Regions from separate parts of the Homo sapiens genome. Here regions 1 and 3 are each linked to region 2. Evidence: fine-mapped expression QTL. A gene starts in region 2. Each other region holds a variant in brackets. All regions are shown on one strand. Distances are between the middles of the regions. Region 1 has its middle 53 kb from the start of FXN. Region 2 holds the start of TJP2 (tight junction protein 2). Region 3 holds the start of PRKACG (protein kinase cAMP-activated catalytic subunit gamma).

The links.
Region 1: its variant is fine-mapped to the expression of TJP2 in whole blood (TOPMed, PIP 0.99).
Region 3: its variant is fine-mapped to the expression of TJP2 in whole blood (TOPMed, PIP above 0.99).

What each region holds. Positions count from the first base shown.
Region 1 is chr9:69,083,455-69,093,432 of GRCh38, forward strand. No RefSeq gene overlaps it. Among named protein-coding and RNA genes, the nearest start is that of FXN, 53 kb to the left of the region's middle. RefSeq lists enhancers at 5,013-5,513, 6,791-7,760. The variant A/C (reference allele first, on the strand shown) is at 4,451.
Region 2 is chr9:69,168,068-69,178,045 of GRCh38, forward strand. TJP2 (tight junction protein 2) reads left to right here and starts at 6,210. Exons shown (of 23, transcript NM_004817.4): 1 at 6,210-6,365. The coding sequence starts at 6,306. LOC124902175 (a long non-coding RNA gene) reads right to left here and starts at 3,530. Exons shown (of 2, transcript XR_007061566.1): 1 at 2,589-3,530. RefSeq lists a silencer at 5,799-6,228 and an enhancer at 7,119-7,308.
Region 3 is chr9:69,008,217-69,018,194 of GRCh38, forward strand. PRKACG (protein kinase cAMP-activated catalytic subunit gamma) reads right to left here and starts at 5,897. Exons shown (of 1, transcript NM_002732.4): 1 at 4,288-5,897. The coding sequence starts at 5,876. The coding sequence ends at 4,821. PIP5K1B (phosphatidylinositol-4-phosphate 5-kinase type 1 beta) reads left to right here. Exons shown (of 16, transcript NM_003558.4): 16 at 231-960. The coding sequence ends at 233. The variant G/C (reference allele first, on the strand shown) is at 5,075.

The sequences.
Region 1 (9,978 bases), 85 kb before region 2:
TGTAATAAAACTAGCCTCAACATTAAAAAAATGTGATGTAATAAAAAACAAAGGAAAAAGAAAACAAAACAGAAAAGCAATTAATAACACTAGGAAACACGAGGCATTGTACAGGATAGGAAACGTCCTGTTATGTTACACAATGCAACAGTGGGTATTGTTTTCATCATTATTATAATGAAAATGCTAAATAGTGATTTGACCAACAATCCAGTTTAAAACATTTGGAGGAATGTGAATGTTTATGGCCAGAAAATGGGGAGAAAAATGGTTAAGGAAACAAAATCTCATCATCTAGAGTGGGAAGGAGACTGATAATTCCTAATATGAACCAAAAACTCAAACTTTTTTTTTTTTTTTTGAGATGGGGTCTCGCTCTGTCGCCCAGGCTGGAGTACAGTGGCACGATCTCAGCTCACTGCAACCTCTGCCTCCCAGGTTCAAGAGATTCTCCTGCCTCAGCCTCTTCAGTATTTGGGACTACAGTTGCACACTATGATGTCTGGCTAATTTTTGTATTTTTAGTAGAGATGGGGTTTCGCCATGTTGGCCAGGCTGGTCTCGAACTCCTGACCTCAGATGATCAGTCCGCCTTGGCCCCCCAAAGTGCTGGGATTACAGACATGAGCCATTGCACCTGGCCTGAAAACTCATTTTATTTAGATATGTTAAGGGAAATCTCAAAATAATCAGCTAGAAAAATTGAAAATGGTTGCCCATGAGGAGGGGAGAACTGTTATTATTTATGTCAAATAAAATTTGTAGGAAGCCATTGATTTGGACTGTGCTCCTGCACTAGGCCCCAATAGACCAAACCACATGGAGTCACTCTTGCTAAAGTTCCACGTCACCAAACCAAAGCTAAGTAGTTTATCTTACCTTCTGGGAAATTAGGGGAGAGAAATAATAGACAAATCCCCAAACAGGCCAGTTTTAGCTGGCATATAAGGAAGTCCTCTCTGTTTTAACCGTATTAGGAGAGTAACTTTGAAAAGACCGTCCACTTTTTGGTCCCTGTTTCTGTTTTCTTCTGCCTTTTCTGCCTATAAAGCTAACTTCCTCTGCCCAGCTCACTGGAGTACCTTCTCTGAATTTTTAGAAGACAGGCTGCCCTGATCCATGAATTGCAAATGAAAGCCAATTAGATCATTTAACTAAATTCATTGTAATTTTGTCTTTTGACATTTGTAAACAAGCCTTGTAGTACTTGCTAAACAATGGGCTGGGCGCAGTAGCTCACACCTGTAATCCTAGCACTTTGGGAGGCTGAGGTGGGTGGATCACCTGAGGTCAGGAGTTCGAGACCAGCCTGGTCAACATGGTGAAACTCCGTCTCTACTAAAAATTCAAAAGTTAGATGGGCATGGTAGCATGTGCCTGTAGTCCCAGCTACTCAGGAAGCTGAGGCAGGAGAATTGCTTGAATCTGGGAGGCAGAGGTTGCAGTGAGCTGAGATAGTGCCACTGTACTCCAGCCTGGGCAGCAGAGCAACACTCTGTCTCAAAAAAAAAAACAAAAACAAAAACAAAAAAACAACTTGCTAAACAACATATGTTTATTATTTGGTAAATTATAAACAATAAATTCAAAACTTTAAAAAGAAAACATTTTATTGATAGCTCACTGAATACAAATTTATAAAATATTATTTATGCATTAAGTTTCAGTTACACATTTTCACCCATCATTACAGATGTCATATGGAGTTGCTAGAGTATGAGAAGAGCTTCTTCATCCCAACAGCTTTCAAAGTGAAGAGGCGACTCATGCCTGTAATCCCAGCACTTTGGGAGGCTGAGGCGGGTGGTTCACTTGAGGTCAGGAGTTTGAGACCAGCCTGGCCAACATGGTGAAACCTCGTCTCTACTAAAAATACAAAAATTAGCTGGGCGTGGTGGCGCACACCTGTAATCCCAGCTACTCAGGAGGCTGAGGCAGGAGAATCACTTGAGCCCGTGAGGTGGAGGTTGAAGTGAGCCAAGATCATGCCACTGCACTCCAGCCTGGGTAACAAAGCAAGATTCTGTCTCAAAAAAAAAAAAAAAAAAAAAGTGAACATCTGGGTCCCCCAGATCTCTTCAGAGATATGTAATGTTCTCCTTTTTCCAACTACATAACTCTTTAAGCTGGGTTTTCTTCATATACTCCAATGAAAACAACATATTGCAACAGATGGAATGAAGAGGCAAGTAGAAGAATCCAGCTGTTTTCTATTAAGCCAAACATTACAATTGTCAGCTGAAGAATTCTGAGATTCATAAATTTGGAAAGAAAAGCTTCATTTCTCATAAAAGATTGCAGCCTGCAGGGTGGCCATTCTGACAGGCTAAGAAATGTAGTCTCTGGCCAGAAGCCAAAAACAGACACTGAGGGTCAGAAGAATAAGATGGGCATTTATGCTGAATAGGATGGCCAAATATACATATTCAATAAACTACAGTCATGAATATTCATGAAAGGAGAAACATGCACATGCTCAATTGAGCTTCATGCCTCTCCATGGGACGCGTGTGCAAAAAATGGCAGCATTAGCATGATCAGAGGGTGGAGTTTTCTGTCCTCTGATATCAAAAGGTGAAACAGAGGACACAGAAACCCTCACTGCACATCCTCTGTAAACTGGCCAGAACCACTCCATTGTGGGCAGTCTGTTATCAGGAAGGAATGCTGGTTAGTTGTGCAGAAACTGCAAAAGGAAGGGGCAGTGTCAGACCATTGGTTGATATCAGCGGTGCAGCTCGTCTTTCCAAAGGGCTGGTTTCTGTTTAACCTGTAGGAAGGAAATCCTAATGGCGTTTAGCAATGGAGAGGGTATAACAACACATCATGGCAAGAACTCAGTTTTCAAGGTTTCTCTGGGGTCCCCTTGGCCAAGAGGTGGTGCATCCGTTTAGTCAGCTGGGGGACTTAGGATTTCATTTTTATTTCTCAGAGTTTTATAAAACTCTAAAATAATTATTTGACAGCCAGGTGGGAGGGGGTCCCTGGAGAAACTCCAACCAGCCTGCCTACTAGGGTGGAGCCTTGGGAGTTTGCAGCAGGGAGGAGCCTGGCGCCTCCTCTTCCTATGTGAACCTGGGATTCTAGCAGCCTGGTGGGAAGCACTGTAGCAGGAGACTCTGGCCTTGCAGAGGATCCCTGTTCCCCTCATCCCTTTATTTCCCCTTTTCACTTAATAAAACCCTGCTTTACTCACCCTTTAAACCATCTGCAAGCCTAAATTTTTGTGGCTGTGGGATAGACAAGAACCTTCTCTTTAGCTGAACTAAGGAAAAGTCCTGCAATGATCCCATTCTTCACACCAAATATGTTTTGTTTCAAAAGTATAGTTATTTATCATAAATATGTCATTAATATTGTTAAATCAAATTTAGCCTAAAGCTGCCTCCTTATATAGTTTAAGCTTGACCTAAAGGTTTCTCTGTACTTAGTGAATTGTAGCCTACCCAGATGTGTAAACAAGACTGTGAACTACTCTTGTGACAAACATTGGATTTTGGCCAATCAAAGGAGGTCAACTCTTGACACTGCTTTCAAATAAGGCAAATATTGAGCTGTAAACAATCTGGCTGTTTCTATACCTCACTTCTGTTTTCTGTACGCCACTTTTCTGTCTCTGTCCATAAATGTTCTTCCACCACGTGGCTGTGCTGGAGTCTCTGAACCTACTCTGGCTGAGGAGGCTGCCCAATTCTCAAACTGTTCAATTAAACTCGGTTAAATTTAATTTGTCTAAGGTTTTCTTTTAACCATATAAACAAGTGAGTTTATGATTGTTATGTCTTTTTTCTTTTCTTTTTTGAGACAAGGTCCCACTCTGTCCCCCAGGCTGGAATACAGTGGCATGATCACGGCTCACTGTAGTCTCGCACTCCCAGGCTCAAGCGATCCTCCATCTCAGCCTCCTGAGTAGTTGGGAGTACAAGTGCATGCAACCATGCCTGGCTAATTTTTTTTTTTTTTGTATTTTTTGTAGAGATAGGGTTTTGCTACATTGCCCAGGTTGATCTCGAACTCCTGAGCTCAAGTGATCCTCTTGCCTCAGCCTTCCAAAGTGCTGGGACCACAGGCATGAGTCACCACACCCAGCTATTATTTCTAAATTAATGAACAGATGAACATTTTCAAAATTTCTCAGTTTTAATTTTAAATATGATTAAAAGGATAGATATAACACACAAACAAAAGCTCTATGGAGTCCTCTATAACTCAAGAATATAAAGGGTCCTGAGATTTTTCTTTAAAGAGAACCACTGCACTCTCCTGGCCTACTAGCTCTCCGCAATCCATCCTGCTTCTCCCCTTGGCAGGAGAGACCTGTTCTAGACCCTCAAGGACCCCTCATAACATCACCTAGCTATTATCTAAGGAATCTTTCTCCATTTGGACTTCCCATTTTTTTCTTCCCCCTTTAAGGTCCCCTTATTCTTTTCATCTAATTTTGTGTGCC[A/C]CCTGCAGAGTCCTTCTTCTTCTTCTTCTCCTTCTCCTTCTCCTTCTTCTTCTCAGAGTCTTGTTCTGTTGCCCAGGCTGGATTGCAGTGGCACGATCTCGGCTCACTTCAGCCTCTGCCTTCTGGGTTCCAGTGATTCTCCTGCCTCAGGCTCCTGGGTAGCTGGGACTACAGGTACCCACCATCATGACTGGCTAATTTTTTTGTATTTTTAGTAGAGACGGGGTTTCACAATGTTAGCCAGGATGGTCTCTATCTCCTGACCTCGTGATCCGGCCGCCTCGGCCTTCCAAAGTGCTGGGATTACAGGCATGAGCCACCGCACCCGGCGACTAATTTTTTTTTTTTTTTTTTTTTTTGAGACGGAGTCTCACTCTGTCGCCCAGGCCGGACTGCGGACTGCAGTGGCACAATCTCGGCTCACTGCAAGCTCCGCTTCCCGGGTTCACGCCATTCTCCTGCCTCAGCCTCCCGAGTAGCTGGGACTACAGGCACCCGCCACCGCGCCTGGCTAATTTTTTGTATTTTTAGTAGAGACGGGGTTTCACCTTGTTAGCCAGGATGGTCTCGATCTCCTGACCTCATGATCCACCCGCCTCGGCCTCCCAAAGTGCTGGGATTACAGGCGTGAGCCACCGCGCCCGGCCGGCGACTAATTTTTATATTTTTAGTAGAGACGGGGTTTCGCCATGTTGGCTGGGCTGGTCTTGAACTCCTGACCTCAGGTGATCCGCCCGCCTTGGCCTCCCAAAGTGTTGGGATTACAGGCATGAGCCAACGCACCCGGCCTGAGTCCTGCTTCTTCCAGATCTGGTGCCCAGTCCTGACGCCAGAAAGGGGGTCTTGTTCCAGACCCCAAGAGTGTTCTTGGATCTTGCCTGGGAAAGAATTCAGGGTAAGTCGCAGAGTATAATGAAGTTAAGATAGTTAATTAGAGGCTACTCAATTACAGAGTAGGGCATCCTCAGAAAACAAGAGGAGGAAGGCGCTACCTTAAATGTAGTGCTTGCTTATGTAGGTTGTATAAGAATTGTGTACTTTATTACAAAGGCTTGTGATCAGCTTGTGACAGGCTATTGGTACTGTTATTTTCCTGTTACTATTGATTTCAGCAAGAATTTATGAGTACACTATTATATTTAAGGCAAAACCTATTCCTTAAGAATGCTTTTTGTTCTTAAAATACTGGGACATTTCCATAAGTTCTGAGTCTTTAGTTAGCAACATTAACTCATTCCCTCAATCATAAACATCTCATGACCAAGAGTGCCCAGTTCCTGGGGAATGTAACCCAGCAGGTTTGGCTTTATTCGGCCTTTATTCAAGATGGAGTCACTCTGGTTAGGACACCTCTGACAGTCCCTGGAAATCCAAAGGAACCCTTCTGTGTGGCACAGGGAATGGAAGAAAGAAAGAGATGAGGCAGGAAAATAGGGTCTGGAGGCAGAAAACATAAGCCGATTCACACTTCAGCTATGACAGGAAATATCCTCTCCATAGGGCGTATGCCTGTAACTTTACTTCATCCTCTTCATTTACATAGGACGTATCCTAAGTAACCAATGGAATCGTCTAGAGGGTATTTAAACTCCCAAAAATTCTGTAACAGGGCCTTTGAGCCCCTATGCTCGGGCCCGCTCCCACACTGTGGAGTGTACTTTCATTTTCAATAAATCCCTTCATTCCTTCCTTGCTTTCTTTGTGCTTTGTGCATTTTATCTAATTCTTTGTTCAAGACGCCAGGAACCTGGACGCCCTCCCCTGGTAATAGAGAGATGAGCCTTTCAAATGACCTGACTCCTTTATCCCAGCCAGGTGTGTGCCCGACCCTGAAAGGAGGAATAGGGAGGGGGACGTTCAACCCGGCCTCCCGCTCTGTGTTAGCAGCGTCTGGATGGGTCAGGGTGGAGGTGGGGGTGTTCTACCCTGCTATTTGCTCCTAGAGAAGCTTCTCTGCTTCACTAGTCTCACAGTTCTAAAGGCAAGAACAGCCCTAGTGGGATCTTCCAAGGATTTTAGAAAAGAATGAATAAGGGAAAAATTAAAATATTGCAGGGTGCCATAAAAACATCCCAGTAAAACAAACACCTTTCTAGATGCTCATTGGAACGTAAATGGAGCTCAGCCCCCATCCCTTCACACCAGATCCAGTCTTCATCTTTGTGGTTCACTGCCCCCTCACCACTCAGGAGGAAAACCCCAGCTTCTGTTCTGGCTCCCCTTCTCTCACTTAGAATTTTTCACCAGAGTTTCAGAAAGATTTGTCAGGACCACTCCATGCCCAAGGTAAAAAGTGTAAGTGGTACAAAAAGGTAGAAACTCATCAGACCCCCAAAGAGTGTCATTTAACCATACAAAGCCCTGATAAACTCCAGGGCAGAAGAAAAAGCTGCATCCTTGACTCCACTGGGGCATTCTTATGTAAACTAAGATCCAAGAACTGCATCAGGAGAGAAATCAAGAGCCCTGGGGATGTTAGGATGAGCCCTAGAGGTGCTAAGACAGGTTATTTGAAAAACCAAAAAGTAGACTGAGATTCCCTTCCTTTTCAGGGAAGAATTGAGACCTTTCCTTTCTTACTGTTCAGAGTGGGGGCTGATAAGGGTAATTATTTCCTGGAGCCACTGGCTACTGCCCTGGGAAGGAAATCCGCTGGGTTGGGGGAGGGAGGAAGGCAGAACCAGGCATTAACTCTCCCTCCACTACATCCCTTTCCCGTACCCCTCCCCTCCTCTCCTTCCCCCCACTCCCTGCCCCCGCCCTCCGAAAATGACACTTGGCCTGAGAAAGGAGGAAGGTAGAATAGGTGGACACTTCCCTTGTCCTGCTCCAGGGGTGTCTCAGTGACAAGGAGATGTGAAAAAAGAAGGAATCCCAAGGCTCCCCTTGGAAAGAAGGGAGATCTCCAGGGGCTTTGGGAAGTCAGGTTAGTACTGGGAAGGCTGAAGACTCCCAGTAGATAGCGTTCAGGGCTGCATTTGGCTGCAATCCTATAAAATACATTCTTCTCTAAGGTTGGATACAAGCATTTAGAAGACTGGCCATTAAAAAAATAAACAGTATTAATAATATTAATAATCATGAGTGTCAGTAGTGTTGAATTTTTTCTGGAATCCTTTCCCAAGTTGCCTAATGCCCAGAGAAGGAAAATAACAGTGTTTAGTAGACATAAATTATAGGATTAGTGCAAGTAGCTATTGAGATGATGAGCCAAGGCTTGTAAATTGGTTTTGTTTTGGTTTTCCTAATTAGATGTTTGCGCCTATCTGTGTATGTGTGTGTGTGTTTGTGCGTGTGCATGCTCGCATGTGGTTAATTTCATGACTTTTGCCTCTGGCTCTTCCTGATTAAAAAAAATACTTAAAATGGTAGGAAGTGGCACACACCCTTGATGGACCTGTGTTTATATTAAAGAATTGGCTTAGTAAATTTAACTGGGACAAGGAAACTGTGAAGGACTGTATTTTTGCCATTATTTAATAATTCATATATTCAACCGTTACTGATTGCCTATTTTGAACCAGGCCACGTGCTAGGATACAATGGTTAACAAACACATTCCCTCCCCTCAAGGAATTCATGGTCTAGTGAAATACAGAGATAGAAAAGAAATAGAAAAGTATATCAATAAAATGCATTGTGGAAAGAGTTATGGTCATAGTGTGTACTATATGCTTATAGAGGCTGCCTTTGTATAAACATACATAAGACTGCTTTTTAAATTATAAAAGGCAGTACATAGGCCAGGCGTGGTGGCTCACACCTGTAATCCCAGCACTTTGGGAGGCCGAGGCGGGTGGATCATCTGAGGCCACGAGTTCGAGACCAGCCTGGCCAACATGGTGAAACCCCATTTCTACTAAAAATACAAAAAAAAAAAAAAAATTAGCCAGGTGTGGTGGTGGGCGCCTCATCCCAGCTATCAGGAGGCTGAGGCGGGAGAATCACTTAAACCCAGACGGAGGTTACAGTGAGCTGAGGTGGAGCCATTGCACTCCAGCCTAGGCAACAAGAGCAAAACTCCATCTCAAAAAAAAAAAAAAAAAAAAAAAGGCAGTACATAGTACAAACTGCTTGGGTTTTGTTGTTGTTGTTTTACTGTACCATATAGGTTGGAGATCATTCCACCTAGTAGCTGAACATTTTAAGCAGATCATCTGGCTACAGGCAGTGAGTAGGATGAACTGGGAGAGTGATGAGTGAGTTAGAGAGTTAGGGAGGGAGGGTGCTGTCGGAGTGTTACCGGAAAGGGGTCCCGATCCACACCCTAAGAGAGGGTTCTTGGATCTCGCACAAGAAAGAATTCAGGGCGAGTCCATACAGTAAAGTGAAAGCAAGTTTATTAAGAAAGTAGAGAAATAAAAGAATGGCTACTCCATAGACAGAGCAGCCCCGAGGGCTGCTGTTGCCCATTTTTATGGTTATTCCTTGATGATATGCTAAACAAGGGGTGGATTATTCATGCCTCCCTTTTTAGACCATATAGGGTAACTTCCTGACGTTGCCATGGCATTTGTAAACTGTCATGGCGCTGGTGGGGGCGTAGTAGTGAGGATGACCAGAGGTCACTCTCGTGGCCATCTTAGTGTTGGTAGGTTTTGGCCGGCTCCAACACCGGCTTGTTGTTTTATCAGCAAGGTCTTTATGACCCATATTCTATGCCCACCTCCTGTCTCATCCTGTGACTTAGAATGCCTTAACTGTCTGGGAATGCAGCCCAGTAGGTTTCAGCCTTATTTTACCCAGCTCCTATTTAAGATAAAGTTGCTCTGGTTCACACGCCTCTGACAAGAACATCTTCATGCCTGTGCCTGGTTGAGAGAGGGAGGCCTCTGCGCTGCTGCTGGATCTAGTGAAGATTCACTCAGTCTCTCAAATTCCTCTACAGTTTCTCTAATGGAAGAGAAAAGTGGTGTTATTGCTGCTAGGGAGCAACCTAGAAGTTATTTTATTTATGCCATAGATATGGTGGGCTAAGCACTGTGCCAACGTTCAATAAGTCACTGCAGATTCTCCATAAATTATTGTGACAAGTACAATTGTTTGTAAGGCTTAGATCTAGGTGTGTAAGTCCAAAGAAGGGTGTGAAGCATCTGTATTTCTGTTATGTAGTTATTAGGAAAAAGGATGTTGGGGCCTTAAAATGGCCATTTTTAACATTTCCAAACTTGTGTTGAATTCTAAGATTTTATAATTGTATGTTTCCAGTTGAGAAGAGCTTTGATATTGGTAGCTCTAAATAAATAAATACCGTTGACCTGGAAGAGAAGGTAAAGTTTAGGGAGAGGCCTTTTTTTAGCTTTATATTTAAACATTTTTTATAAATGTGATTCATGGGCCAGGCCTGGTGGCTCACACCTGTAATCCCAGCACTTTTGGAGGCCAATGCAGGTGGATCACTTGAGGCTAGGAGTTCGAGAGCAGCCTGGCCAACATGGTAAAACCCCATCTCTACTAAAAATTAGCCAGGTGTGGTAGCACACACCTGTAATCCCAGCTACTCAGGAGGCTGAGGCAGGGGAATCACT
Region 2 (9,978 bases):
TCCTGAAGACAGGTAGTCTGAAAATTACTTATGAGTGATCCACTGAATGTTTCTAAAGGAAAAGCAAGAATCTTCAGTTGCCCAAAAGATGGAGGAGGTCTGAGAGTTCTTAGAGTGGTTTAGAATGTGTTCCTCTGTGCTGGAAGATAGCTTGAAAATACTTTGCTGTCTTTGTAATCTTTATACATCTATGATTGCTATAAAGTCAGCTTTGTTCTCTATTTCTAGAACCATCATGTATTGGAATGAGGAGCATCTCAATTCACAGGTCTATTATTTCTTGGGGGTGGGTGTCAGAGGGCATATGGCATTAGAAGCAGCTCTGTGTACAACTGAAAACAGTGTCGAAGCTATTTAGGATCTGGGAAGTGTACAAGTTAATTACCCCCACCCTCAAAAAAGAAAAAAGAGGAGGACTTTAACAAACTTTGAAAGTGATCATGAGGGCAGGACGCGGTGGCTCATGCCTGTAATCCCAGCGCTTTGGGAGGCTGAGGCAGGTGGATCACCTGAGGTCAGGAGATCGAGACCATCCTGGCCAACACGGTGAAACCCCATCTCTACTAAAAATACAAAAATTAGCCAGGTGTGGTGGTGGGCGCCTGTAGTCCCAGCTACTCAGGAGGCTGAGGCAGGAGAATCGCTTGAACCTGGGAGGCAGAGGTTGCAGTGAGCTAAGACGGCGCCATTGCACATTGCAATCCAGCCTGAGCAACAAGCGCGAAACTGTCTCAAAAAAAAAAAAAAAAGAAAAAAGAAAGTAATATATAATAACTAAAAGTGAAAGCATAAGGGGGAAGCAGAACGTTAGATGCCGCTCTCCTGGAGGTAATCACAGGGGCCATTGAGTGGGGTGATTATTGTGGGAGGAAGCCTGCAGGTGAACCGGGTGGTTATTGTTAACTGGTGTTTGGACTGAGGAAGATGGGTGGAGCCAGGAGAGGAGATGAGGCTACCTGGAAGTGGGGGCGGGGACGGGGGAGGACACAAGGCCTTTACTGAAAAAACATCAGGTCCTTCTGGCGGAGTTTTAGCTGCTGCCTCAGCACTTTAGTCATCTCTGTAGTTGAGCAATTCTCCTAACGTGTCACAATGTGTTTACATATCGTTGTCTTCAACACACTGTGAGCAGGCTCCCTTTTATAAATTGTCATTATCTTCTGTATAGCTACCCCAGGGTATATGGTAGGCATTCAAGAAAGGTTTGTTAAAGGAGAGTTACGATTCCAGTCTACTTTACAGTGTACACGTTAACTAAATTGTTTGGTGAACCTGTAAACTTTTCTCTTTTTTTTTTTTTTTGGGGGGGGGATGGAGTTTCACTCTTGTCGCCCAGGCTGGAGTGCAGTGGCGTGATCTCGGCTTACTGAAACCCCCACCTCCCAAGTTCAAGTGATTCTCCTGCCTCAGTCTCCCAAGTAGCTGGGACTACAGGCGCCTGCTACCATGCCAGCTAATTTTTTTGTATTTTTAGTAGAGACGGGGTTTCACCATGTTAGTCAGGGTGGTCTCGAACTCCTGATCTCAGTTGATCCATCCGCCTCGGCCTCCCAAAGTTTTGGGATTACAGGCGTGAGCCACCGTACCCGGCTGAACTTGTAAACTTTTCAGTGTTAGTTTTCTTTGCTCCCAGTTGATGATACTTTATAACCATATTGCAGATATATACATATATATATATACACACACACAGATATGTTTCTTAAGATCTCCACATTCTTGAGAAAATATGACTAAAAGGCATTTAGTTTATCTCATTAAGGTCTTCTGACCAACTTATTTCTTATTTTTTGAGACAGTGTCTCTCTCTGTCACCTAGGCTGCAGTATAGTGGTGCAGTCATAGCTTACTGCAGCCTCAAATTCCTGGGCTCAAGCAATCCTCTCCCCTCAGTCCTCGAGTAGCTGGGACTACAGGCACATGCTACCATGCCCAGGTAATTTTATTTTATTATTAGTTTTTGTAGAGACAGAATCTCACTATGTTGTCCAGGCTGGACTCAAATCCCTAGGCTCAAGCAATCCTCCTGTCTAGCCTCCCAAAGTGCTGGGATTACAAGCATGAGCCCCTGCACCTAGCTGACCAACCTATTTCAGAGACCTTATATATTGTAATATACACTGAAAAGTTGAAAAAAATTGTCCATTGCACAAACAATAACTAAATTTAAAAAGAAAAATATATGCACAAGCCTGTCTTTTCATGAAGTCATTTTTTTGCATACTTTCCAGTTTTTATTTTTTTTATAATTTTATCACTGTCATCATCATACATTAGATGTAATTTGTGTTTTTTTGTTGATAATTATAGCATTATCATTCTCCTTGTTGTATAGACTTCCTTATTACAATTTTAAATGATGGTCTGCTATGCCAATTATGTTGATTTACTGTAATTTAATAGCCCAGCCCACCATCATTGGACATTGGTGGTTTCCATCATTCATTATTAGATACAGGCATATAGTGAAGTGCTGCCTCATACCTAGTCATCCACTGTAATCTAACCTCCAGTCGTATCTTTCCATTGAAAAGCTCTGGCCAAGATAAGCAGTGGTCCTCCACTTAATGAACATCATCAGTTCTTACCTTAATTGACCTCCTCGAAATTCCATGTTGTTGGCCTCTCCCTCTTTCCTGAAGTTTGTTCTTTCCTTGGCTTTTTGGACACTCTCCTCCAGAAGCGTTTTCTTTCCTTTCTGGCAGCTCCTCTTTGGTCTCTGTTCTGGCAACTCAAGTCTGCCCCCTAAATATTGGCATTCCCAGAGATGAGTCCTGTCCTTAGTCCTCTCTTGGCTTAATCTACATCACGTCTCTGAATGTGGGATTGTCCCCTCCCAAGACTTCAACTTTTATGATACATTGATGATACCCAAATCACTCCCAAATCTCTCTCCTCAAATACTCATCAGTGCCTAGCACATAGGAGACACTTGATACATATTTGTTAAATTACTGAACATCTTCACCTGGATGACCCATAGCACTTGAAAATCAGTCTGTAACTAAACTCATCATCTTTCTTCAAGCTCCTCCCAAGATCTGCTCCCACTCCTGTGTTCTGTTTTGATAAAAGCCACCGTCATCTCCTTTAAGTAAGCCAGAAACCTGAGAGTCAGCGTAGGCTCACTTCCCGCTCGCGTCTCCCCATATCTAGTCAGGCAGTCATCCAGCCTGCTGATCTACTTCCTTAGTTTCTCTAGAATCTGGCTCCCTTTTGTCTAACACTGCCTAACTTCATAGCCACGTCATCTCTCACCTGCATTCCCACAAAAATGCATTTTTGGCCGGTCTTGTCATTCTTACTAACATTCTCCTCCCCCACCAACCCCTGTCCCCCACCAACTGTCAAATCCATCTTTATACTTGCCTGGGCAACTTCACCTTCTGGCACCTCAAGAGTAAGCCTGCTGTCTCTTCCTTCCTTACTTCTCTCTGTGTTATTTATTCCCCTTACCTGGAAGGCTTTTTTCCTTCTTTGTGTCTTAAAAACTCATTCCGACCTCTCCTTTAGAATGTATAAGCAACCCCATCTCTGGAAAGCCTTCCCTAAGTCTCTCCTGCTAGACCACTCTGAGCCTGCCAGGAATCTCAGTGCTTACACAGTTTATCATTACTTGTTGATTGTCTACTGCAATAGACTGAGTTTCCTAAGGCAGGATCCTGAGTATTTTATCAAGGGGTTGACAGAGGTGTTCAGTAAGTACCTGTTGAGTAGAAGAATTTTTTTTTTTTTTTTTTTTTTTTTGAGACGGAATCTCGCTCTGTCACCAGGCTGGAGTGCAGTGGTGCAATCTCGTCTCACTGTAACCTCCGCCTCTTGGGTTCAAGCGATTCTCCTGCCTCAGCCTCCTGAACAGCTGGGACTACAGGCGTGCGCCACCACGCCCAGCTAATTTTTGTTATTTTTAGTAGAGACGGGGTCTCACCATGTTGGCCAGGATGGTCTTGATTTCTTGACCTCGCGATCTGTCCGCCTCGACCTCCCAAAGTGCTGGGATTACAGGCATGAGCCACCGCGCCCTGCGGAGTAGAAGTTCTTTGGATAAACACATTCTAGGAGTGGGGTCAAAATGTGCAAACCCACACGTGAAGAAGATGACTAATAAATTGTTTCTCCAAAGAGTTGTATTGATTTACACTGCCACCAGCAAAAAAGCTAATATATCAACTGAACCGTGTTTCTAACAACCATTTACTGAATGCTTATCATCTGTCAGGTGTTGTGCCAGAAGAATGGAGTTTGTCTATAAATATTTCATCATTTCGAGTAGTGCAGTCCAACAGAACTTTCTGCATTGATGGAAATATTCTATATTTGCACTGTCCAATAGGGTAGCTATTAGCCACATGTGGCTTCTGAGCCCTTGAAATGAGACAAGTGTGACTGAAGAACTGAATTTGTCATTTCCTCTAATTTTAGTTAATTTACATGTAAATGTAAACACTTACTGGTGGCAAGTGGTCATCTTATTGAACAGTGCCGCTCTAGAGAGAAAAAAGGAAATCAGTCAGTAGATGTAACTGCCACATTCTGGATTATTTTTTAAATGTTAGTGGCTCTAAGCCCACATCATTAAGGTGTGGCCACCTTTCAAGTGCTATCATTTTTATTAGTCAGCACCACCTAATTTGGGAAATATTTTATTTTTTTTTCCTTTTTTTTGATTAAAACAATTTTTAAAAAATAGAGATGGGGTCTCACTATGTTGCCCAGACTGGTCTCAAACTCGTGGGCTCAAGTGATTCTCCTGCCTTGCCTTCCCAAAGTGCTGGGATTACAGGCATGAGCCACCGTGCCTGGCCAGATTTGGGAAACATTTTATAAATAGGTGCTTAGATCAGGAGAGCAATGCCTTACATCAGGAATACAACCAAAATGTCTAAGTCCGGAGACTCGAGGCAAAGTGGGAAACGTTACTCACAGTGCTTTTTATCCAGAGGCGTGGACTTAGTTACTCCAAAGGAGTCCAGAAGCATAACACTTCTGGAGAGGCATCTACTGGACTTGTTTTTCCACGAAACTTCTAGACTTGTTTTGATCAGGCAGGAAGTGAAGCAACTTTTCAGGGAGAGAGCCCAGCATCTGCATCTCCTCTGGGACAGACCACACCTTTTACCTTCTACTTGTGAGCCTAGGACGAGTTTTGCTTTCCAATTAAGGGAAGAGCAGGGCAGGCAAAACTATTCTCTTACAAGATGGTTTTTTAAGATTTCAAACCCAAGGTTATATTTTTAATCGGTACCTGTTTGGATTCTCCAAATTAATTTATATGCTCTTAAAATAAAGACACTTAACGTCACTGCACAATTCTTTGCACATGGAGGACTTCGAAAGGAATAAGCACACTGAATTGCATTAGATGAATCCTGTCAGATAAGCACTTGTGACCTACTGGCAACCTTTTATAAGCTGATGATGGGAGAGGAGTTTCAATCTCTTTATTGGAGTTGTTGGAAATGTGCCAAAGAGATAACCTGGAATATATTGTCCTGAAAAGTCCTGTTTTAATATTTAATACGAACATCTTATAACCCTCGGAATTCGGGTAGGCAGTTGTTGGGCTGAGAAATGTGGGGTACAAGGCCGTGTATGTGTTGGTTAGCCGGGCAGGCCTCTAGACAGGACCTAAAACTTTGAGGTTTTCCCAGTTCGACTCTTCGTAGGAGAACTGAAGCTGCCTGTGTGAGGCCCTGCGAACCTCGCCAAAAAGTCTTCCTACAGGATGCCCCCGCGACCTCACCGGGGAAACACCGCGGACAGTCGGGCCAGCAGCGCCCGGAGCTCACTCCAGGTCTCCAAACTTGCAGCACTTCCCAGAGCGCGCGCGCTCGGAGCGGGACCTGCTTGCTCCAGTGCACGCCGCGGAGCGAACCATCGGGCTGGCGGGGGTGGAGGGGTGCAGGCGTGGGGGCTGCGGGCCGCTCGGGCCTTGGGCTTCTCCTGCCGCCGCCGCCGCCTCCCGCCCCCGGCCAGGAGTCGCGCGTGACGCGGTTCGCCGCAGGAGCCTCGAAGGCGCGGCGCCGGCGAGCCCTTCCCCGGCAGGCGCGTGGGTGGTAGCGGCCAATTTGACAGTTTCCCGGGCCGGGCGGCCAGCGCGGAGGCGCCACGCTCGGGTCGGGGGCGGGCTGACGCCGCCGCCGCCGCGGGAGGAGGGACAAAGGGGTGGGTCCCCGCGGGTCGGCACCCCGGCGGTTGGGCTGCGGGTCAGAGCACTGTCCGGTGGTGCCCAGGAGGAGTAGGAGCAGGAGCAGAAGCAGAAGCGGGGTCCGGAGCTGCGCGCCTACGCGGGACCTGTGTCCGAAATGCCGGTGCGAGGAGACCGCGGGTTTCCACCCCGGCGGGAGCTGTCAGGTTGGCTCCGCGTAAGTGCCTCCTTGTGCCGCGCGGTTGGGAGGAGGGTCGTGAGCGTGAGCGTGGGAGCGCTGGGGGCTCTGCTCGCGTGCTGCTCTGAAGTTGTTCCCCGATGCGCCGTAGGAAGCTGGGATTCTCCCATCCGGACGTGGGACGCAGGGGAGGGGTAGGTTTCACCGTCCGGGCTGATGACTCGTGGCCTCCGGGGCTCCTGGAACCTTTACTCTGAAGTCACTTGGGCTGGAGATTAAGGCGCGAGTAGGGGACACTGTCTTGAACCCGGTGTCCTGGATTTCTGCTGGCTTGGAGGCATCTCGTGTCTGTTGTGTCGCTTGCATGTCTTTGTGTTTTCCTTCTCTATTTCAAACCACACTCGGTATTGATGCAAAGTTACAGGCTTGTGTACGTGAGAGAAACTGAAAACTCATCACAGAGCAGAATCCCTTTTCCCTTTCAATCAGCTGCGTCTGTAATAGAAGTAAAAGTTGTTTTTTTTTTTTTTTTTTTCCAGTAGGGAATGGGGATGGAGGTTTGGAAGGACCCACAAAAGAGGAGTGTGATGAATGCTTTGTATTCTAGTACTAGCCTACCTGTCACCAGTTCTTTTTATGTCTTCATTTGTCAAGTTTCTGCTTTTACACGGTAGTTTAAGTTATAAATAATCAGGGATTTCTACCACAGGGTTTTAACATTCTTGAAATGTGGACAAACTTGGGAGTGAGTGCTCCCGCGCTTAGTAATGGAATACAGCCTCCCACCTCTATTTCAGCTTCAGTTCTTAGGCTAGGCTGCTTTTCTGGCAGCTGTCTGGCCTGAGTAATGATGGTTGTGGTTTCCCTGAAGTTCCCAGCGGAGAGTCATCCCATGATAGAAACTGCCTTGCGCTTCTCACTCACGCTCTCAGCCCGGGGAATCCCAGCGGGGAGGAGGGAGGGAGGTCGTTTTCTTCAGCTCCCCAGGTGGTCTGTGCTGGGTGTGCTGACGGTCCTTTTGGGAAAACAGGTCCACCTTTGCCAGCGTAATTCAGAAAGAGATGTAATTTTCTGAGAGCACACACCTGGGCAGGAGATCGCTTGAAGTGAGAAATTCGTAGTGGTAAATGTATTTGTAGCAAAGTACCACTGCATATCCTGCTTGAGAGGATGAAATTTGATTATTTAGTAAGTTTTCATGAACAACTCCACTTCAGTGTGGGGATTACGCAGATGAGCAAGAGCGTGGCTCTGTCACACAGTCCCGTTGGGAAAGCCTGCAACTCATTAAGAATCCGATGAGTGCCATTTAGAAATGTGGACAGGGTACTGGAGCTTCCTCATTGTGGGGAGATGGCAGAAGCGGAGGTGCTTTACTAAAGCACCGGTGGCTTTTGAGGTGTTTCTTGTGTTTTTTTCAGAACTACTTCTGCAGTGGGGCCACTTTATTTCTTTTCAGAGCTACTTATGCAGATTGATGAAGGGGAACTTTCCCCTCTGAAATGCTGCTGTAACTTTTTCAGTACCATCCAGATATTATAATACTGAATGAGCCCCTACTCCTGCCAGTCACTGTGGGGGATACAAAGATGAACAAGATTCAATTTCTGCATTTAGGGGTCTAGTGGACCTGAAACTGTTAGACTTTACTCTGCAATCTGTGTCGGGATTCCTGAGACTGAGGGAGGGAATGTATGATGCCGATGCACACTCTGCAATACAGAAATTTAGCAAAGAGTGGGATTGGTCCTATATGCATTCCCTTCAGGGGATTCTTGCTGGGAATAAAGGGCATTTGAACAGTTACCTCACCCGAGCAAGCCACTATAGAAAATGGGGCCAGTAATGCGCCCACCTCACCGGGCTGAGTGAGGTCTGAATGAAATGACAGAGAGTACAAGGCATGTGGTGGATGCTACGTAAATGGTGGTAGCTAGTAATAGGAACAAAACGGGTGCTGAAAACTCTTAAGTGTTGGGTCCTGGGTTGATAAGGGAGGTGAGATCTAAAGATACAAGTAGGAGGTGCCAGGTAGGTGTCCAGGAAAAAACTGAAAGAGTTGTTGTTCACACTCTGTTAAAAGGCCTTGAAGGCCATAACGAAGCTTTGGGTGGGGGGAAGTCAGAAATCCCTCATGTATTAAATGACTTGACTTTCCCTACAAAAGAAGCGAACCAGTTTCCCAGTAAACATCCCACCCCATAACTATTTTTGAGGCATTCATAGGCTTAAGACCAATGAATTTTTACATCACCCCCGGGGGAATTGCATTTGCAATGACTTCTGCCTACATTTAACTTTTGATCTAGTTCTTTGTACACTGACAAAAGTTCACAGCCAACCATTTCTCTTCAGGACAAGTGTGAGAACTTTCTGCATACTGCTGAAGGCAAGGGAGATTTTGAGTTTAGCAAGGTTTTCTCTCCTTAAGAAGGTTATCTTTTTACGAGACACAAGTTATTGAAACTAGGCGGGGCCACTTTAGTCCTGTGTACAATAATATGTGTAGTAATATAAATAGTAATTTAAAAAGTCATGCAGACTTGGTTGGGGAGAGGCATGAAGTTTGGGTGTGGTGGGGGCGGGGTGAAGCGGTAGAAGGGTTCGCAATCACTGCTGAAACTTTCAACATATTCTACCAACAATATGAGCCACCAGGGAATTCCTTGCCTCATCTCTAGAACGAATCCCATTAAGCAGTTGTGGCTACAGATGAATTTATCTAGGTTGAGAGCTGATTCCCAATAACATGCCTCATTGATTTGACTCTAAGCAGTAATCAGGGGCCCAACAGTTGTTGGACCAACCAGCCTTGATTTTCCAGAGAAGGTGATTTGGTATATGGTAGTGTCTGAGGGTGAGATTGCCCCAGATGGGAGTGGAGGGAAGCAGAACAGTTTTCTCTGGTGTTTTACTGAGTTTTTGTCTTGATCCTAAATCCAAGGGTTAGGGTCAGAAACACAGACTCAGAGGTTAGATTTAACACCCATTTAGTGGGTTAAACACATCAATGGTTATGTGAACTTTGTTAAGGTTTAAAAAGCTATTTAGGGCCTGTTTCTCCCTCATAGGAATTTTTGCAATCAGCCTTTTTAGTAGATGCCCATATAGAAAGTGAATTTGGGAGGGTCTAAGGTGGTATTACTATTAAACTTTTTGAAAAGGCTGTGTGATAGCAATGGAAAAAAAAATTCAGGCATGGAAATCCAATATGCAGTATTGCAGTAGCTAGTTTTAATTTTATTTTTGTTTTTTTGGTTTTTTTTTTGGAGATGGAGTCTTGCTCTGTTGCCCAGGCTGAAGTGTGGTGGTGCGGTCTTGGCTCACTGCAACCTCTGCCTCCCGGGTTCAAGCGGTTCTCTTGCTTCAGCCTTCAAAGTAGCTGGGATTACAGAAGTGAGCCACCGTGCCCGGCCACTAGTTTTAATTTTGGATGGTACCTAGGAAAGCAGTTGAGCTAGTATGCTGCATACATTGTAGTGTGAGAGGCAGAGTTCCGAGTTGGAGAGTGTCTGCTTCCACTTTTTCCATTTGATTAGGAAAAGCACTTCTTAGAACTGGGTGACTGACAGCTAGAGCCCCAGAAGACCTGCACAAGCTGGGGCAATGGCTACCCATAACAGTGACGGCTCCATTCTGTTTTTTAAAGGGA
Region 3 (9,978 bases), 160 kb before region 2:
ATGTAGTCAGGACTCAATCTTGATAAACATTGGTGTAATTAACAGGTTTCAGGTCCACCAAAGAAGTATATGCTATGCTGATCATTGCAGAAGAATCCCAAACATAATGCACCCCATTTTCCAGACACAAGTGATTGGGAGAAATAACGAACTTATGTTGCGACTCATGGGGAGAGGTTACAAATTGATGCCAAAATCTAGTCTCACACCTGCTTTTTTGCTCCCCCCAGTAAGTGAAAATGGTGATCACCTAAGCACATGGATGAGACGTGAGCACAGTTATGGCAGAGAAGTTTCTCCGCACCAGAATTATCCACAGCAACTTGGCTGAGCCCCACTACACACAGAGAAATCATCAACCTGACTTAAGAGTTTTCAAGATGTCAACTTCAGGCTGATCAGCAGATGGGATGTGAAAAATACTACCCTATTCTATCATTTGCTGTTGCTTGCTGAACTGTGAAGAACTGCATGAACTATATTTAAGCTGCTTTCTGTACCATTGCCAATCACCTTTTTGGAGTTGGAAGTGCTATTTTCCTATGGACTTTTGCATTATTTCATTGTGCATGCATCCAGTGATTATACATAAGCAACATATGTAATCTGCTTATATATTTTTAAAAATCCATCCACACACATGGTAAATTAAGTATAAATTCTTTTGCAAAATTATAGTTCATGTCATTGAAAGTTTAAATTGGTTTCATTTAAAGATCAATATACTAGGTCTGCCTTCACTTTATAGAAAACTAGCTTCTATAAAGATTTTTTCACTGTTTACTAGTGAAATGAGAAAAGCAAAGCTATTTATAAAAGGCCTTATGTCGTGTACATACATTGTCTTTGAAATATTTGTGATCTAGTTTATTGCTTGTAAAAGAGAAATTATATAATTTATTTAGTAAATACTACTGTAAACTATAGTTTTGTGAGAGAAATAAAATATTTTGTTCTCAATTGTGGTGGTACATCGATTCCAGTGATTTATGGTCTTTCCATTTCTTCTTTTATTAAAAATAACCCAAATACTCCTCATTTGAGATATTCAGAAATCCTAAATAAACTGAATTTCATGATGGATAAAAATGGGAAAAACTTCAATAGCAGCTTCTGCTGAACTCATCCAAAGACTTTCCCAAATGTCCTGGTATATTAGTCAGCTTTCACTATGTTATGCTATGGTAACAAACAATCCCAACATCATAGGAGCTTTCACCAACATAGTTTTACGTCTCCCTCACATGTGGGGACCAGCTGCAGCTCTGCTCCAAGAGTCTTCTTCATTCTGGGGTCCAGAGCAGCCCCTATGTGGGACAGGCAACTTTCATGGCAGAGAAAAAGAGCAATGGTGGAACCAATGAGAGCTCACAAAGCTTCTGTCTCAGTGCAGCTGACAGCATTTCTACTTGCATTCCATCCACCAACATGAGTGACATTGACAGGTCTGGAGTCAAAGGTGTGGGATGTACACTTCTCACATGGGAATGGACTCAGCAATGAATATTTTAATTAATTAATACAGTTTACACCACCTGGTAAGTGTCCCTAGCAACAGAGACATAAGAGGTTGAGAGAAAAATCATTAGAAAGCAAAATGATCAAGGCTGCAGAAAGATATTCCTGATGAGTAAGATGCTCAGTGTTAAATACTTCGAGTTAAAACAAGCTGATTCTTGTAAGCAAGCATGCTGTAAACTTTTGTAAATGTAGCCCAGAGCCATAGTTACTCAGCATAAGTAGCAGTTTCACCTGCAGAGTCAGTGCTGGAAAGCTAGGATGTCTTACATCCTAGGTTAGGATGTCAACAGGGAATTCTGCAGAAGTGGATGATTGAGGATCCTCTGCCTCTCTCTAGTATTCATATGTGCTACCACTCTCCCTTACTACATGGGTTTTCATAGGTGAATCCCACTCTTCCCCCCTCCCATTTGTAAATCTACCCATTTAAGCAGGGTTCTTAGCCTAGGACCCACTGATTTCTAGAAGAGTCATAGATAAATGTTAATAGGGCCATGAAATCATATACACAAGTTGGGTATGCTTTTGTGTATATGGGGTGTTTTTTTTTTCATGAAGAGAAAGACTATACTTTTTATCAAATTCACAGTGACCTGGACCCAAGAAATGTTAAGAACCTTTATTTTAAGACCTAACTCAAAAGCCGTTTCAATACCATGAGGCTGTGATCCTCAAAACTCTATCCCCACTTGAATCACCCGTGGCCTGCCTGTGTTGTCTCACCTGTCTCAAAAAACCTCAACATTTTCAACCGTTTTTTAATGACTGAGGTATAACTTACATATGCTAGAGTGCACAGCTATGAATTGTATAGTCCAGTGAATTTTTACATATGTGTAGACCCATGTGCCCAGCACCTAAAGCGCATAGAAAACATTTGCAGCTAACCTACTGGCTTTTTTTTTTTTTTTTTTTTTGAGACAGAGTCTCGCTCTGTCGCCCAGGCTGGAGTGCGGTGGTGCAGTCTCAGCTCACTGCAACCTCTGCATCCCGGGTTTAAGCAATTCCCCTGCCTCAGCCTCCCGAGTAGCTGGGATTACAGGCAGCTGCCACCATGCCTGGCTAATTTTTTGTGTTTTTAATAGAGACAGGGTTTCACCATGTTGGCCAGGCTGGTCTTGAACTCCTGACCTCGTAATCCGCCCGCCTTGGCCTCCCAAAGTGCTGGGATTACAGGCGTGAGCCACCGTGCCTGGCCACCTGCTGGCTCTTTCATGTCCCCTCTCCACCAATGCCATCCTCAAAGGTCACTATTATGACTTCCAGCATCATAGATTAGTTTTGCCAGTTCTTTTTTAACAAAACTTTATTGGTAATAGTTGGTTTTTTGTTTTGTTGTATTGAGACAGAGTCTCACTCTGTCACCCAGGCTGGAGTGCAGTGATGCGATCTCGGCTCACTGCAACCTCTGCCTCCCAGGTTCAAGCGATTCTCCTGCCTCAGTCTCCCAAGTAGCTGGGATTACAGGTGCATGCCACTACGCCCAGCTATTTTTGTATTTTTTAGTAGAGACGAGGTTTTGCAATGTTAGCCAGGCTGTTCTCAAACTCCTGACATCAAGTGATCCACTTGCCTTGGCCTCCCAAAGTGCTGGGATTACAGCACCCGGCCTTATTGGTAATAGTTTTGACATATGTTTACAACAGCACACTGTTCAAGAGGAAATCTCATCTTTTCACAGCAAGCAGGTTGAATCACCCTGAGCCCACCTGGGGACCCACCCCAGGCCTGAGAGCTCCTCCTGGGATGGGGAGAAGTGATGAGAGGGGGAAATATGAAGATGAATGAGGTGGCTTGCCAGCAGCTCCTCACTTTTCTATTAAGAAAGAAAACAGACCAGGGACGGTGGCTCACTCCTATAATCCCAGCACTTTGGGAGGCCAAGGCAGCTGGATCACCTGAGGTCAGGAGTTCAAGGCCAGCCTGGCCAATGTGGCAAAACCTCGTCTCTACTAAAAATACAATAATTAGCCGGGGATGGTAGTGGGCCCCTGTAATCCCAGCTACTCGGGAGGCTGAGGCAGGAGAGTCGCTTGAACCCGGGAGGCGGAGGTTGCAGTGAGCTGAGATTGTACCACTGCACTCCAGCCTGGGTGACAGAGTGAGACTTCATGTCAAAAAAAAAAAAAAATTGAAAACAGCACGGGGTGGCAGGGGAGAAGAGGTGAAGGATGGCTGACAGCTAAGCTGGAGAGGGGCACCCAGGATGGGAGAAGGCAGAAGCTGCTGGGTGAATAAAACAGGCAGCCCCTCCCCAGCAACCCTAGCCTTGAACCCTGGGCGATGAGGTGGGGGTGGAGGGGCTGGGCCTCTTCCATGTCCTTTTGCAGGACTGCCTTCCCATAAGGAGAGGCTGGGCATCACAATCTGGCTGAGAATAAAATTAAGGAGTTTCGGGGAAATGCTGCTGTGAAGAAAGACTTGGGCTTGGAACTCCCACTCTGTCTTTTTGGGGGACAACTCCTCTTTGGCAGGGAGTAGGGCAGCTGCTTTTCTGGCTCCCAAAGCCCAAGGGTGAAGAAAAGTCTGCTGGGGAAGAAGAGAGTGGAGCTTCCTAAAAGAACTGAGACCTTTGCAAGAGTGATAGAGGATGCCCCTGGGGAGGGGGGAGGGGGAAATCAGCAGTTCATGGGGGAAGTTCAAACCCCAGAGCCTCCTTCCAAAGTCAGTCGGCTTCCTGGATTTGTTAAAATGGAATGGGGAGACACGGTAAGGTGGGAAGGGTGGGAGGGGTGGAAGTAGAGGAAGGAGGAAAGGGGACACTGGTGGAACTTAAATAAGATTTTAATTGTTTTTTGTTTTAATTTTTTATTCTAGCAAACAGCCCACTGAACATGGCACTAAACCTCTCTCCTTCCCAGGCAGGATTACGCCAAAGGGTAGGTGTGCTTTTCATTCATCCTCTCTTAGTAAGTGGTGCCTGTTCAGGGCTGGAGTTAAGTTTGAGCCCCTCTTTCCACACCGTGTCCCTTGATACAACAGCAAGACCTGGCCTGAATAGAGCTGAGAAACTCGTTTAAAACAGGCAGAAGGGGGCTGGGGCAAGGGGGACCCTGTGGGAGGAGAAAGAGAGAAGCACAGAGGGACCAGGAAGGCATGGGGGGGGGTGAGGGAGCAGCTGGTGTTTCTGTTCCTCCAAATATCTGGGCTTCCTGCTCCCCCAACCCTGGAGGGTGGGGTGAGGATGAAATTAGATACAAGGAACTCTGGGGCCCTCTGGCTGTTCAATCCAACCCTCCCATCCCCCAAACCACCAAAAACAAAAAGGAAAGAAAACCCACAGGGGCACAAGCACACCCCTAAAACTCAGAAAACTCCTTGGCACACTTCTCATTGATGGAGATCCGGAGCTCTTCCTCCTCGTAGTCGTCAAAGTTACTGGCATCCCCAGGGCCTGTGTACTTCGGGATGAAGGGAGCTTCCACCTTCTTCTCATAGATGGCGATCCAGCTGGTTGTGGCGAACCACTTGTGGTTCTTGATGTCGCCAACCCCGTTCCTGAGGTTTCCGAAGCGCTTGGTGAGGTCCACCTGCAGCAGGCTCCGCAGCAGAT[G/C]CTTGAGGTCAGAGCTGAGTTTGGAGGGAAACCGCACCCTCCCAGAGACGATCTTCTCGTAGATCTGGATGGGCTGGTCGGCGTAGAAGGGTGGGAAGCCCACGGCCATCTCATAGATGAGCACCCCTAGGGCCCACCAGTCCACGGCCTTGTTGTAGCCTTTGCTCAGGATGATCTCGGGGGCCAGGTACTCTGGGGTCCCGCACAAGGTCCAAGTGCGGCCCTTCACGCGCTTGGCGAAACCGAAGTCCGTCACCTGCAGGTAGCCCTGCTGGTCGATGAGGAGATTCTCGGGCTTCAGGTCGCGGTGGATGAGGTCGAGCGAGTGTAGGTACTGGACGGCCAGGACGACCTGGGCGGCATAGAAACAGGCATGGGGCTCGCTAAACCTTCCGACGCGCTGTAGGCGGGAGAACATCTCCCCACCCGGCACGTACTCCATCACCAGGTACAGGTAGGAGTTGTCCTTAAAGGAGAACTGGAGCTTGACGAGGAACGGAAAGTCGATCGCCTGCAGGATGCGCTTCTCGTTCAGTATGTGCTCGACCTGCTTCATCTTCACCACCTTCTGCTTGTTGAGGATCTTCATGGCGTAGTGGCCGCCGGTCTCCTGGTGCCTCACCAGCATCACCCGCCCGAAGGAGCCCATGCCCAGCGTCCTGAGCCGTTCGAACTGATCCGAGCTGGCGGTGTTTTGAGCGGGGTTTCCCCATCTGTAGAGGAAATCTCCTCTGGCTTTGGCTAGGAACTCGTTCACGCTCTCCTCCTGCTCGGTGTCCTTCTTGGCGGGGGCGTTGCCCATGGCGGTGGCGGCGGCAGGGGCGGGGGTCTCGCGGCGGCGGCGGCGGCGGCGGCAGCGGCGGAGATGGCGCCCCCTGGGGCTGGCTGCGCTGGCTGCGGCGCTGCGACCCCCGCCCGGCCTCCGCTTATATTCCCAGCTACATGGGAGGCTGAGATGGGAGGATTTCTTGAGCCTGGGAGGTCAAGGCTTCAGTGAGCCAAGATCACGCCGCTGCACTCAACAATATGGATAAATCCAAAAGGCATTATGCAAGTGAGAGAAGCCAACTCTAAAGGAGACTTACTGTATGAATCCATTTCTATGACATTCCAGAAAAGGCAAAACTATAGTGTGAGAGAACAGATCAGTGATTGCCAGGGCTTGGGGTTAGGGGACGGTTGGACTATGAAGGGACAGCCTGAGGGAATGTGGGAAGTGGTGGGACATGTTTGTATCCTGATTGTGCTGGTGGTTACAATGTATTGGGTGGTGGTCTACATTTGTTTTAAAACTCATAGAACTGGCCGGGCGCAGTGGCTAAAGCCTGTAATCCCAACACTTTGGGAGGCCGAGGCGGGCGGATCACAAGGTCAGGAGTTCGAAACCAGCCTGACCACCATAGTGAAACCCCGTCTCTACTAAAAATACAAAAAAATTAGCCAGGCGTGGTGGCGCATGCCTGTAATCCCAGCTACTCGGGAGGCTGAGGCAGGAGAATTGCTTGAACCTGGGAGGCAGAGGTTGCAGTGAGCAGAGATCGTGCCACTGCACACCAGCCTGGGCAATAAGAGTGAAACTCCATCTCAAAAACAAACAAACAAACAAACAAACACCTCAAAGAACTGTATACTTCCCCCCAAAATTCAGTTTTACTGCATGTAATGTTTTATTTTAACACATACATATGATTTCCTTTCTTCTGTTTGCTTTGGGTTTAATTGCTCTTATTTCCTAAGGTGGGAACTAAGGTCACTGATTTGAAATCTTTCTTCTATTACAATCACTTAGTGCTATAAATTTCCTCCTAAGTATTATTTTTTGCAGCATCCCACAAATTTTGGTATGTTGTATTTTCCTTTTCATCCAGCTCAAAATATTTTCTAAGCTCCCTTTTCATCTTCTTTGACAGATAAGCTATTTAAAAGTATATTATTTCGTTTCCAAATACTTGGGGATTTTTCAAGAATTTTCCTATTGATTTCTGATTTAATTCCATTGTTAGAAAACATACTCTGTGTGACCTAAAATGTTTTACACTTCTTGGGGCTCATTTTATGGCCCAGAATATGATCTATCTTGGTAGATGGCCCATATGCACTTGAGAAGAATGTATATTCTGGTGTATTCTGCTGTTTGAGGATACAGTGTTCTACAAATGTCACTTAGGTCAAGTTGGCTAGTAGTAGTGTTCAGGTCTTCTATATTCTTATTGACTTTCTGTTTACTTATTCTATCAATTATTAAAAACATGCCACAGGAGTTTATGAGAAGTCAAAGTACATAGATGATGGGCCTTCCATCACTCCCCCAGGCCACCATGTCAGCCGCCCCACACACCCTCCAGAAGACTGCCAGCACTCAGCCATCACAGGGTGGGTTCTGAGCTGCTCTCCCCAGTCAATTCTGTACAAAGATTCTGTCCTACATCATAAACACTGAGCTACAGGAATACCCATTTATCCTCCTATTTTCTCTCCATCTTGCCCTTTAAGTTTGACAGCTAATTCTGCCTACCCACCCTGGCTACACCGCCTGTAGCTAGTGCAAGTAAACAACACACTTTCACCTAGCCCTGCAGGCTGAAACCAAGCAAATTGGAGAGGAATCCCTGATTACTTGACTCCAAGTAGAAGGTTTCTATTGTGACTGTGAATTCTTGCCGCTCAGTTCAGCAGATGTTGGTCAAGCAGGTGTCTATTGTGTGCAAGGCCTGGTTCCGAGTTTACGGTTTAATCTGGGGCCAGTACTTGGGTACTGACTGTATATTCAGAGACGGTCAGGTTAGAGAGGAAGAAGAGGAAAGGAGAAAAATCTACTGTTGATCATCTGAACTTCCACAAAAGGGAAACCCACATTCCCTCAAGAACATAGCAGGGGGGTCAATTGCCCCTTGTGCTTTGGGTCAAGGCAAATCCCTGGCAGATGGAAATTCCACGTCTCCCCCATAATCTCAGTGATTTCCTCTTCATTTTCATCACAGTAGATCTGCTAAAATTCTGCCCATTTCTGACTTACCTCCAGATTATTCAGTAGAAATTTATACACAAAGAGCAATTAGTGGGAAGCCATTCTCTTGGACCGACGCCTTGGAAGTGGGACAGTTTGTTTAGAAGCAGGCTGTGCCATTCCATGACAAATTCTTGTGGCATTAATCTCTGAAGTTCAATTAGGAAGACACAGGGGTCTAGAGGGAACATATGCTGCACACTAGAAATGTCCCCATGCTTCGTTTACAGGTCAGAACATCAAGTATTTATCCCAGAACAAGCTGCAGAATAATTACATTTGTTATTTCTCTCCACTTTCCGTTCTGCTTTTCTCCATGGCCTTGGGGAGCAAGGGAGTCCTTAGCATGCCAAGGAAACAGGAATCCTTTTGCATTCAGATAAACCCTTTCAGAAGGAAAAGATTTGTGTAGCAAGATACAATACCTCTGCATGATCTGCTTGGAGCTTGCCTAGGGGGCCAAATGAAGAGGTGAAAGCCAACTCTGCTTTCCTGTATGCCCAATGAAAGGCAATCAAGACCATTCTTCTCCCAAAAAACTGCTCACTGGCAGTCATGCCAGCTGATTCTCCTCTTTACTGTTTATATAGCAGTTTCCAAATGGCTAATTGCATAAGGCTTGGATCATTCAATTCTAACTTCCTCTCTATCTCCAAAATATTGATGGGAGCAAAGAAAAGAACAAACTCCACCAGGATTCAAATAAGAAATAAACTACAAATCTCTATCACTCAGGGAATTATTTACATAACACTGCATGTTCTGGTCCAGAAATACTTATCATACCTGGATTTTGACAAGCCAGCTTCTATTAATAGTTTGTTTTCTCCTTATTAGCAGAATATTGTAAAAGAACATTTTTGAACACAAAGTTTCTATGTCAGATTTATGATCTATAAAATGCTGATTTAAAAATTGGCGTGGCCTTTGTTATATGAAAGATGAAAAATTATGGGAGTCAGGAAGTTCAGAAATAACTTAATGACAATAATTTATAAAGTACTACATTTATTTAAAGTTTGGGCAATCATTCATCCCTTGGTACCACTAATTTTGCCACAATTTTTTTTTTCTTTTTTTTTGAGACCGAGTTTTGCTCTTGTTGCCCGGGCTAGAATGCAATGGCACGATCTCGGCTCACCGCAACCTCCACCTCCCGGGTTCAAGCAATTCTCCTGCCTCAGCCTCCCGAGTAGCTGGGATTACAGGCATGTGCCACCATGCCCAGCTAATTTTGTATTTTTAGTAGAGACGGGGTTTCTCCATGTTGGCCAGGCTGGTCTCGAACTCGCGGCCTCAGGTGATCTGCCTGCCTCGGCCTCCCAAAGTGCTAGGATTACAGGCGTGAGCCACCGTGCCCGGCCACCATAATATTTATAGAAGTGGCTTGACACACATGATAATGAGCATTGTAATGTTTTTGGGACCTGAAAAGAAAGTAGTCCTAGAAATAGGCCCAACTTGCTTACCTAAAAATATATCTTCTGACATATAAGAACTGCCAAAAGTGATTACCCCTAGGGAATAGCACTAGGAACTTAGAGAAGCATAAATTAAAGGAAGGAAAATTTTTACTTCTCACTTTATAAGCTTCTGAATTGCTAAAATTAATTTTGAGCATGAATTACTTTACTTATTAAAATAAAAATGAGGTAAAACATTGGTTTCTCACAAATGCATTTACTTATATTTTATATGTCACTTTTATATACTGTTTAAATCCACAAAAGGGAGACAATTTTTATAAAATTATTTTCCCCATATTTTGTAGTTCTCCTTCGTTTCCTGGCAATAGCACTCTGTTTTATCTTTGAGGGATTACTTCTACCTCATTTCATCTGATTCTGTTGGGTTCCCAATCTAACCCACTCACCTGAGTCAAAGTCAGGGATGGCCA